2 separate regions of the Homo sapiens genome follow, and region 1 is linked to region 2. A link means that fine-mapping ties the variant in region 2 to the expression of a gene that starts in the linked region. Tissue or cell type: whole blood. Region 2 holds a variant in brackets; the other region holds the start of a gene. All regions are shown on one strand. Distances are from middle to middle.

Region 1 (4,142 bases), 62 kb before region 2:
GGAGAAGGGTGCCCATACCGCAGTGCACCTTCCAGGCCTCCCTCAAGTTACAAGGAGTTGCCAGGGAGCTGTTCATTCTACACACACCCCACAGTTCTTCAGGTTTTCCTTTCCACAGTAAAACACAGGAAACTACCTTTATGCCTGAGACACTATGACAATAATCTCAATGAAGAAGTCTCCCCAAAATAAAATATAAAACAAAAGCTAAAAGCCATTAAAGAACTACATTTTCCATGGCTCAGGGATACCTATGCTTCCCAGTAACACCTTGGAAAGACGCTTCACCTTGACTAACCTTGAAGTGTGATGCATTATTAACCCTTTAATTTTCAATCAAGAGAGACTCACAGGCTGCATTTTTTTTTCTTTACAAAAATTCATATATTCCAGCTTCTTCCATTTCAAAATGTCAGCTAAGCACTATTTCCCTGACTCATTCTCCTGCCGATTCCCACAGATCCTCCCAAGCAGGAACACCAATCGGCCTCTGTTCAGGACTCCCTGAATGACTGCAGTGGTGGTGCCAGTGGTGTTGGTGGTGATGGTCATGATGATGATGATGATGATGATGATGTTGGAGGAGGAGGGGGCAGTGATGCAGCAGGGGGAGTTCCCTCCCTCCTTCCCTCACGCAGTCACGACTCATAGATTCGCCTACAACTCTGCCCTTCAAAATGACCTTTTTTTTAAAAAAAAAAAAGTCACCTTTCCGGAGAGGCTGAAAACAAGAAATCTAATTTTCGATGGAAAAAAGTCTATCCAACCAAGCAACAGGCTGCACAAAATATTTTAAGATCAGCTGCTCTGCGTTTATATTCCCTTCACCATAATCAACCCAACCTACTGACTGATCCACAACTGTCTGTGTAGACCTTGAAAACAACCAGACTTTGCCAGGTTTCGGGCCAAAGCTAAGAATCGGAGTCCTGAAATGGAGCTTATTGAACCATTTCTGGGTGGTGATGACTCCAGGGGAGGTCATGGAGGGAAATCCTTAGCCATCGCTGTGAAATACTACAGTGTGGATGGATTCCTCTCCACCCTTCTCTTTCCTCTCTTTTGAGATACGTATTTAGACTAGAAGAAAGATGCTGTAACACACAACCTCGTCTGCATTAGATCCCATCACCTCACGAGGTTCTCTCAAGACCCCAGATCTCATTTTTTTTTTAAGGACTCAGGACACGGGAGAGACAAATGTAGTCTCGCAGAGCCTGACTATTCCCAGGAGTAAAAGGCTCAACCGATGCACGGTAGGAAAGACTGCAAATTACCAAGCCAAGATCGCTACGATATGCATAACCTTCCGCCTGTCGTGTTCCAGCCCCGACCCTGCGCCCCACTCTGGGGACACCGCATTCCGCACAGGACTGCAAGCCCAGGCCGGCGCGACCCAGCAGCGTCCACCACCCTCGCCCCCGCCACCCCGGCCAGCGCGGTGGGTGCGGAACCGGCCGCGGACCCTGCGCAGGGGATGCGCCGCCCGGGAAAGATCAGACGCGGCGGCCGGGAGCTGCGGACCCCGTACTTACACCAACTGCCACCGGTCCTGCCCAGAAACTCCTTCTTCTCTGAGTTCCAGATGAATTTCTTCCAGCTGCCCTCCTCCTTGGCTTTCCCGCGGGCCATGGCGATGGCGGGTCAGCAGCTGCCGCGGTCCGGAGGGTGGGTGGCTGCGGCGCGCGCCCTGGCGTCCTCTGCGCCGCTCGGCTTCTCCGGCCTGGCTCTCTGCAGGCAGGACGCGCCGCTGCCGCTGCGGCTCTCGGAGTGCGAGACGCGCGGCGGAGGAGCCAAGGCAGGAGCAGGAGGAGGGGGAGGCGGCGGCGGCGGCGGCGGCGGGGCGGGGGCGGAGGGAGGGACGGCGCAGGCTGCGCGGCTCCGAGCCCCGCACCTATTGGTGGGCGCGCAGCCGCTCGCGGGCTTTCTTTGGTCCGCCGAGCGCTCCTCTAGCCCTTGGGGGGTCGGGGGCTCCGCGAACCCGTAGCTGCCGCTCCCGCTGCCACTGGGGACGTGTGCTGGGCCCCCGCCTCCCCTGACCTCTGCAGAGACAGGCCCGGGGTAGGAGAGTCAGAGAGGGAAGGACGGACAAGCGGACTGCGGGGCGCCACCGGCACTCCCGCCAGGAGCCGAGGAATTGGCTGCGCCCGCCCTACCTTTACTATATACCGCGCCCCGGCGGCCGTGCGCCCCGCCCTCTAGCGGCCCGGTGGCCAATCGCCGGCGCCAGGGGCAGGGACTCGGCCCGAGAGGGCGGGTTCGGGGCCGGCACAAAGGAGCCGCCGGGGCTAGAGGGGCCGCTTGGATCGCTGGGCGCGGGGCGTTGGGCGCGGGGCGAGGAGGAGGCGGGGGCGGCGGTGAGGGACGCGCAGGCAGCGCCGCGCAGCCCCCTCCCAGCTCCCGGCTGGGCGTGAACCGCCCCTTCCGTGGCTGGGGGATCCGCACCTGGGTCGCCCGGAGCCTCGAGGACCCCAGCCCGGCAGTCCTGGCCCAGCCTCCACGCCTCTGCCTGCCCGCCCGCGCTTTCGGCCTCCCTGGGCTGTGGGTCCACCCCTCCTGGGCGCTGGCGGGGTGGGGGAAGGTCACTCCGGGACGCCGGACTGGCGAGGACTCTGCCCAGCTCCGCCCCGCCTCCCGCTCCTGCACCTGCCGCCCCCTCGCACTCCCCGCCACTGCGGTTGCAGTTCCGGCCCTTCCCTCTTCTTTGCAGGCCAGCCCAGCCGGCAGCCCCGGTTCCTGACTGCCCGGCTGTGCCCCTTGTGGGCGGCCTGAACCACCTCGAGCAGGACAATTGCCAAACCCACCCAGGGCGGTAGCCCGCAGTGAGTTGTCCCGTAGAAACCAATTGAGACTCAGGCCAGTCTAGACCCCAGGCAACAATATCTGCACGTGACCCAGCCACCGAGGACTTTCTTGGTGCCCGGTCGGCGGCGGGTATTCTCATTGGCATGCTTTTATGCCCCCTTGGGGGTATCGATCCCTTTGTTCTGCTGTAAAATTCTTGGAGCCAAAGGACCTTTGGGAAAACCTAGCGCATAGGGCAAGATGTTGCAGACCTGGGGCATAGAGTACCCCTTCCCACTCTTTGTCCGCTGTTGCTGGAAAGCCAAACTCTTGGTTTCATCCCTCTCCTATGAGCCCCCAAGCAGCTTTATACATCCCTCTGAGGACAGTGACACAGCAGAAAACACCGGGATGCTTCTGCTTCCACTGCAGAGAAGCCCTATCCCCAGGGGCCATCATGGCCCATCTTGACGTCCCAGCCCCATATCAGAGAATTCCCCAATACCAGGATGCTTGTCCTTATCCTGGCCACCCTTCTGTCCCCAAGGTCAACCTCGCTGGCATAAAGACAAGCCCGAACTGATTAAGAATGAGCATTTTTCTAATCCTTCTCCAAGCTCGCCTGCAGGACCTGTGCAAACCTAAACATTCCTGAAATTCGGGGGAGAAGCGACCACCTATCCACCAAGCCCCAGTGGGGGAGGCTGCAGGGCTCTGTCAAGGGCATCCGAGAGAGAGAACAGCTTATTGAGAAAGGAAGCCACCTCTCGTTTAGCACCTGTAATGTTTATGTTGGAAAAACCCCAGCTTGGTAGTATGAGAGCTGCAGGAAGATGCTGCACTTGCGGGTATGATGACCCTGGTCCCCTTCAGGCAGAAGTTACCTTATCGAGTAGTTTTCCAGCAGGACAGGTTGCTGGGAAGGGTATGTGTTGTTGAGTGTCCATTACTGTAACAGGAGGGAAAACCTGTAGGCAGAATCAGCAAAAAGAGATGAGTGGGGAAAGGGTAGCATGGGAAGGGATGAGGCGGTTCTGGGAGTTGGTGGTGCCCTTACTTGTGCCCACTCCGTTCCTGTACCTTGATTCCCAACCCCCCTTCCAAAAGAAGCATATGGTAAGACAAAATATATAAAGAGAGTCTCCAGTGACAGATTTTCTTTTTTCCTAAAACAAGTGTCCTACCTTAGCTCTTCAGAGGTGTAGCAAACACCCAGTAGACTGATGCTTGGTCTCTAGTCTTTGATTTACTGTCTTCCACTGGGGAATATCTTCCCCTCTCAAATTTTAGGTCCCTAGCTCTACTCATCCCCCCTTCCCTGCATGGAAACTCTTCACAGGTTCAGATGAAGTCCTGAG
Region 2 (4,348 bases):
TTTTGCCTCCCCTTTTTATGCTTCCTTTTTACCTTTGCCTACATTGCTAAGTGCTTTCACCTTGTTTCATGGTGAGTGTGTTTGTGGAGAGTGAAGATAGGAATGATAGGGCACAGAGGCATTTTTTTGTCTTATTTTTCAACTCACCTGATACATAAAAAAAATTGATGCTACTTATTGAGGACTGGGCATCACACATACTATGGTGTTTTTAAAGCATGTCCACAAATTTTCGGCACTATTTCAAATAAAAGGAGCGGTCTAATTCTGCTCTCCTAGAATACAGTCTGGTGGTAGTGATTTGCTTCTAATAAATAGAAGGCAATGGAAGTGATGTCACTGTGTGACTTTCCAGCCAGGCCAGAAAAGAGGATATGGTTTCACCTGTTTCTCTCTCAAGTGAGATACATGCCTTTGGAGCCCTGAGCTACCTCATAAGAAATCTGGAGACCTTGAAGGGACCATGCAGAAGGACCATGTGGTGGGTCCCAAAGGGATAGAGGGAGGTGCCTGGGGAGCCACAGCTGCTCCAGCCCCTGCTCCAGCTATTTGTCTTCCCAGCATGGGAACAAGACCTGTGAATGAAGAAGCCTTGAAATTGACCCCAGCTCTAGCCACTGACCAGTCTGCCTCAATCACCTGGGAGACCCCGATTCAGACTAGCTCAGCTCAGCTGCTCTCAAATTCCTGGCCTACAAAACCCACAAGAGCTAATAAACAGCATTGCTCTTGCAAGGCACTAAGTTTTGGGCTGATTTGTTATGTATTGCTAGATAACAAATAAACGCATGATATCAACTAATAACTCTGTGTGGCAGGTATTGTTATCTTAGTTTCACAAATGAAGAAACTAAGGTTTAGAGAACTTGAGAAGCATACATACAATACCGCTAGGGAGACACAGAGCTGGGACACAAACTTGTGTCCACGAGACTCCAGAGCTTGTCAAGGATCCTCTGCACCAGGAGGCTGCCTCACTGGATGCTGGAGGAGGTTGAAACAAATAGGTAAAATTGTGTTTTTCTGTATCTGCCCTACTAGCCTCTCATGATTCTAAGATTAAACACACGATCACATTGTGTTTGGAAGATCACCACCTGTTCAAAACACTCTAGGCTCATAGTTAACTGGCAGAACCAGCCCCTGAAGTGAATTTACTAAAAGGCTCTGTGTCCTGCGTCTCCTTAGGAACAGTGCTGGGTTTCAAAGTAGGCATCAGGGCAGGGCTGCTAGTTAAAGGGGGTGGTCAGCAGGCCCAGAGGGCCCAGGTTGCCCTGGGGAAGCCTGGAGAAGGCTGTGAAGTTCCAAGCTTAAGGCAGGCAAGGGAAGGCCATATGGTGTGTGGTGAAAAATGGCGGAGGAAAACAGAACAAACAAGGCTGAGGAGTGGGAGCACAGCTGAGAAGGAAGTGAGAAGAGCACGATGTAACGGAAGCTCTGGAGAGCAATGAGAGAAATCTTCACAGACTGGATGGCTGAATGCTCCCCAGAGACACAGAAGGGCTCTGCTGCTGCTGCCAAGGGGAAGCAATTGGTTTGATATTAGACCCAAGGGGATTTACATGCCAAGGTCCACTTTAGAATTTCTATCCTAACCTCTGAACCCATGTACTTCTAAAACGTATATGTAAATGTTTCTGAGAAGACAGGGTCCATTCATTCAGGTTAATGTCTATCAAGCATCTATTATGTGCTGGGTGACCAGTGACAATGGGACATATAGAATATAAATTAAACACATTTTCTGCCCAAGAGGAACAGGGTCTGGAGGGAAATGATAATTTTTGGACACCTATTGTGTGCCAGGTCCTATCTGGGGTGATTTACTTAAATTTTCTCATTTAATCTTGACACCTATTCTACAAAATAGGCATTACCTTTATAAGAAGCTGAGCTTAGAGAAATTAAATAACATGCTTAAAGTTATATACAGCAAGCAAGTGTGTGTGTTTTAACCCAGGTTAATCTAATTCTAAAACCCATAATTGTTCCGCTGTCAACCCTGCCTCTCAGGCTTATGGGTTCGCATTTCTGGGTGCAGATTTCATGGAACTGTGTACAGAGGGCTTTAAGTCAGCAGAGAGGAAGTGGTTAGTCCTGCCTTGAAGAAGGTGCAGGAGGGGA[C/T]GTGGTTTCACAGAAGTTATTAGATCAGGGCAGTGTAGGGAGAGGAGGAGTTTAGTAGTTAGAGAAGGACACTGTAGACAGAGGGAGTTGCAAGTCAGAGGGAACAGTGTGCCAGGCATGGAATGGAGGAAGACATAGTTGGAAAGACAGGCCAGGGCTAGACTGTGAGAAACTGTTTCTTTTCAAAGGAATATGGGCAAAGGGAAGCACTGAGGTTTTTAAGCAGGAAAGTGACTTGATCAGATGTGCCTTTTAGAAAGGTCATCCTGATAGCTCTTGGCAGTATTGTTAGGAGCAGAAAGAGCCTGGCCATTTTCACTTAGATGTTGCACTGACCTCTGAATCTCAAAAATCTCACAGTGAAATGCATGATCTGTCTTCTTCCTGCTTGCAAACTCTTATCTACTCCTGGGTACCCAACTTGGTAAGCACCTCACCATCCACCCAACTGACCAGGCCAGGGGCCTTGGCTTGTACAGAGGTGGGTGTGCACAGATGCTGACAAAGCTTAAGCATCAGGGCCCCTCACTCACATGAGCACTCTCCAGGCCCTGCACTGAATTTTGTGTTTGCAGCTTTGTAGTCAAGAGCTGTGCTAATCTCTTAGTTGTGCCATTTTTTCTCTTAAACTCTTTCTAATTTGGCTTTCAGCCACTATCTGCCACCTGGATCCCTGTAGTGGGTTTTGCTTAGGTTAGCCTGCTTCTCTACTTGCCACTGGAAATTTTATTCTCAAAGTAATTCTTCTAAAACATAAGTCAGGTCATGTTATTCCTCTGCTTAAAACCCTGTCATAGTTTTCACTGAGAGTAAAAGTCAAAGCCCTTACATTGCGCACTAGGGCCGTGCATCTCCTGACTGCTGTTTCCTTTTTGAGTTTTTGCCCACCACTCTTCCTTACACTTTGTGCTGCTCTAGCCACACTGGCCTGGAGCCACTCCTCAACACTCAGGCCCGCTCCCATTGTAGGGTCTTGGCTTTAACCTTTCCCTCTTTCAGGAGGCCCCTCCCACAGATATTTTCTCACCTCCCACAAGTCTGTGCTCAAGTCTTGCCTTCTTAATGAGACCTATTCTGACTACTATTCTTTTTTCTTTCCAACTTGTATTTTAGGTTCAGGGGGTACATGTGCATGTTTGTTACGTGGGTAAATTGTACGTCACAGGGGTTTTGTGTACAGATAATTTTGTCAACCAGGCAATCAGCATAGTACCTGATAGGTAGTTTTTCAATCCTCTCCCTCCTCCTACCCTCCACCCACAAGTAGGCCCCAGGGTCTATTGTTTCCTTCTTTGTGTCCATATGTACTCAATGTTTAGCTCCCATTTATAAATGAGAACATGTGGTATTTGGTTTTCTGTTCTTGTGTTAATTTGCTTAGGGTAATGGCCTCTAGCTGCATCCATGTTGCTGCCAAGGATATGATTTCATTCTTTTTTTGTGGCTATATAGTATTCCATGGTGTATATGTACCACATTTTTTTTTTATCCAGTCCATCATTGATGGGCACCTAGATTGATTCCATTTCTTTGCTATTGTGAATAGTGCTGCAGTTAACATACATGTGCTTGTCTGACCACTATTTTTAACACTGCAACCTGCCCCTTCCCCTCTCCCCTGCAGCCCTGGTTTACCATATTTTCAGAGATAGAAATCATACACTTTTATGTAACCTATGTATTAGCTAATGCTCTGTATCTATATATATTGACTTCCCAATTATTGATAACAATATTGACTCTTCAGAGAATTTTAAAGCTCAGAAATCCTTTTCATATCTATTCTCTCATAGGAATTATTGCCTTCCTGTTATACATAATAAAACTAAGCTCAGAGTTAAGTGAATTGTCTATTAATAACTACCAAATTTTGGCACCTACTCTGTGCCAGACACTATAAATATATCATGGCCAATGCTTACAATAGACCCATGAAGTGGATATTGTTTTCTGTGTCTTGCAGTTGAGAAAGCTCAGTGTTTGACACTTATGTGATGGTCTAAGTTCCCATTGCCTGTCACATCCAGGACTGCTTGATTCCAGAGCCTGTTCTTTTTCCATTGTTGTTCCTGTTCATTTCATTTCTTCATGCTGCCTCCCAGATGTGGGCTCAGCAAGGGGAGATACCTTGACTTAGATTTCTTCTTATGCATTTTTGAGCTAGTTTTTAAAATTTTCCATTTTAAATTTTTATTGATGCCTAATAGATGAACATGGTTTCAGG

Evidence for each region. PIP is the estimated chance that this variant, and not a neighbour inherited with it, causes the effect.
Region 1: it holds the start of ATP1B1, and the variant in region 2 is fine-mapped to the expression of ATP1B1 in whole blood (TOPMed, PIP above 0.99).

What each region holds. Positions count from the first base shown.
Region 1 is chr1:169,104,320-169,108,461 of GRCh38, reverse strand. It overlaps ATP1B1 (ATPase Na+/K+ transporting subunit beta 1), which reads right to left and starts at 1,772. Exons shown (of 6, transcript NM_001677.4): 1 at 1,536-1,772. The coding sequence starts at 1,632. LOC101928596 (a long non-coding RNA gene) reads right to left here. Exons shown (of 2, transcript NR_135799.1): 1 at 3,969-4,142; 2 at 3,555-3,752. RefSeq lists enhancers at 1,063-1,635, 1,636-2,208, 1,997-2,291, 2,782-3,355 and a silencer at 1,805-2,724.
Region 2 is chr1:169,042,290-169,046,637 of GRCh38, reverse strand. The region is part of intron 3 of LINC00970 (long intergenic non-protein coding RNA 970); the gene reads left to right. Among named protein-coding and RNA genes, the nearest start is that of LINC00970, 43 kb to the left of the region's middle. RefSeq lists enhancers at 1,338-1,467, 2,020-2,279. The variant C/T (reference allele first, on the strand shown) is at 2,125.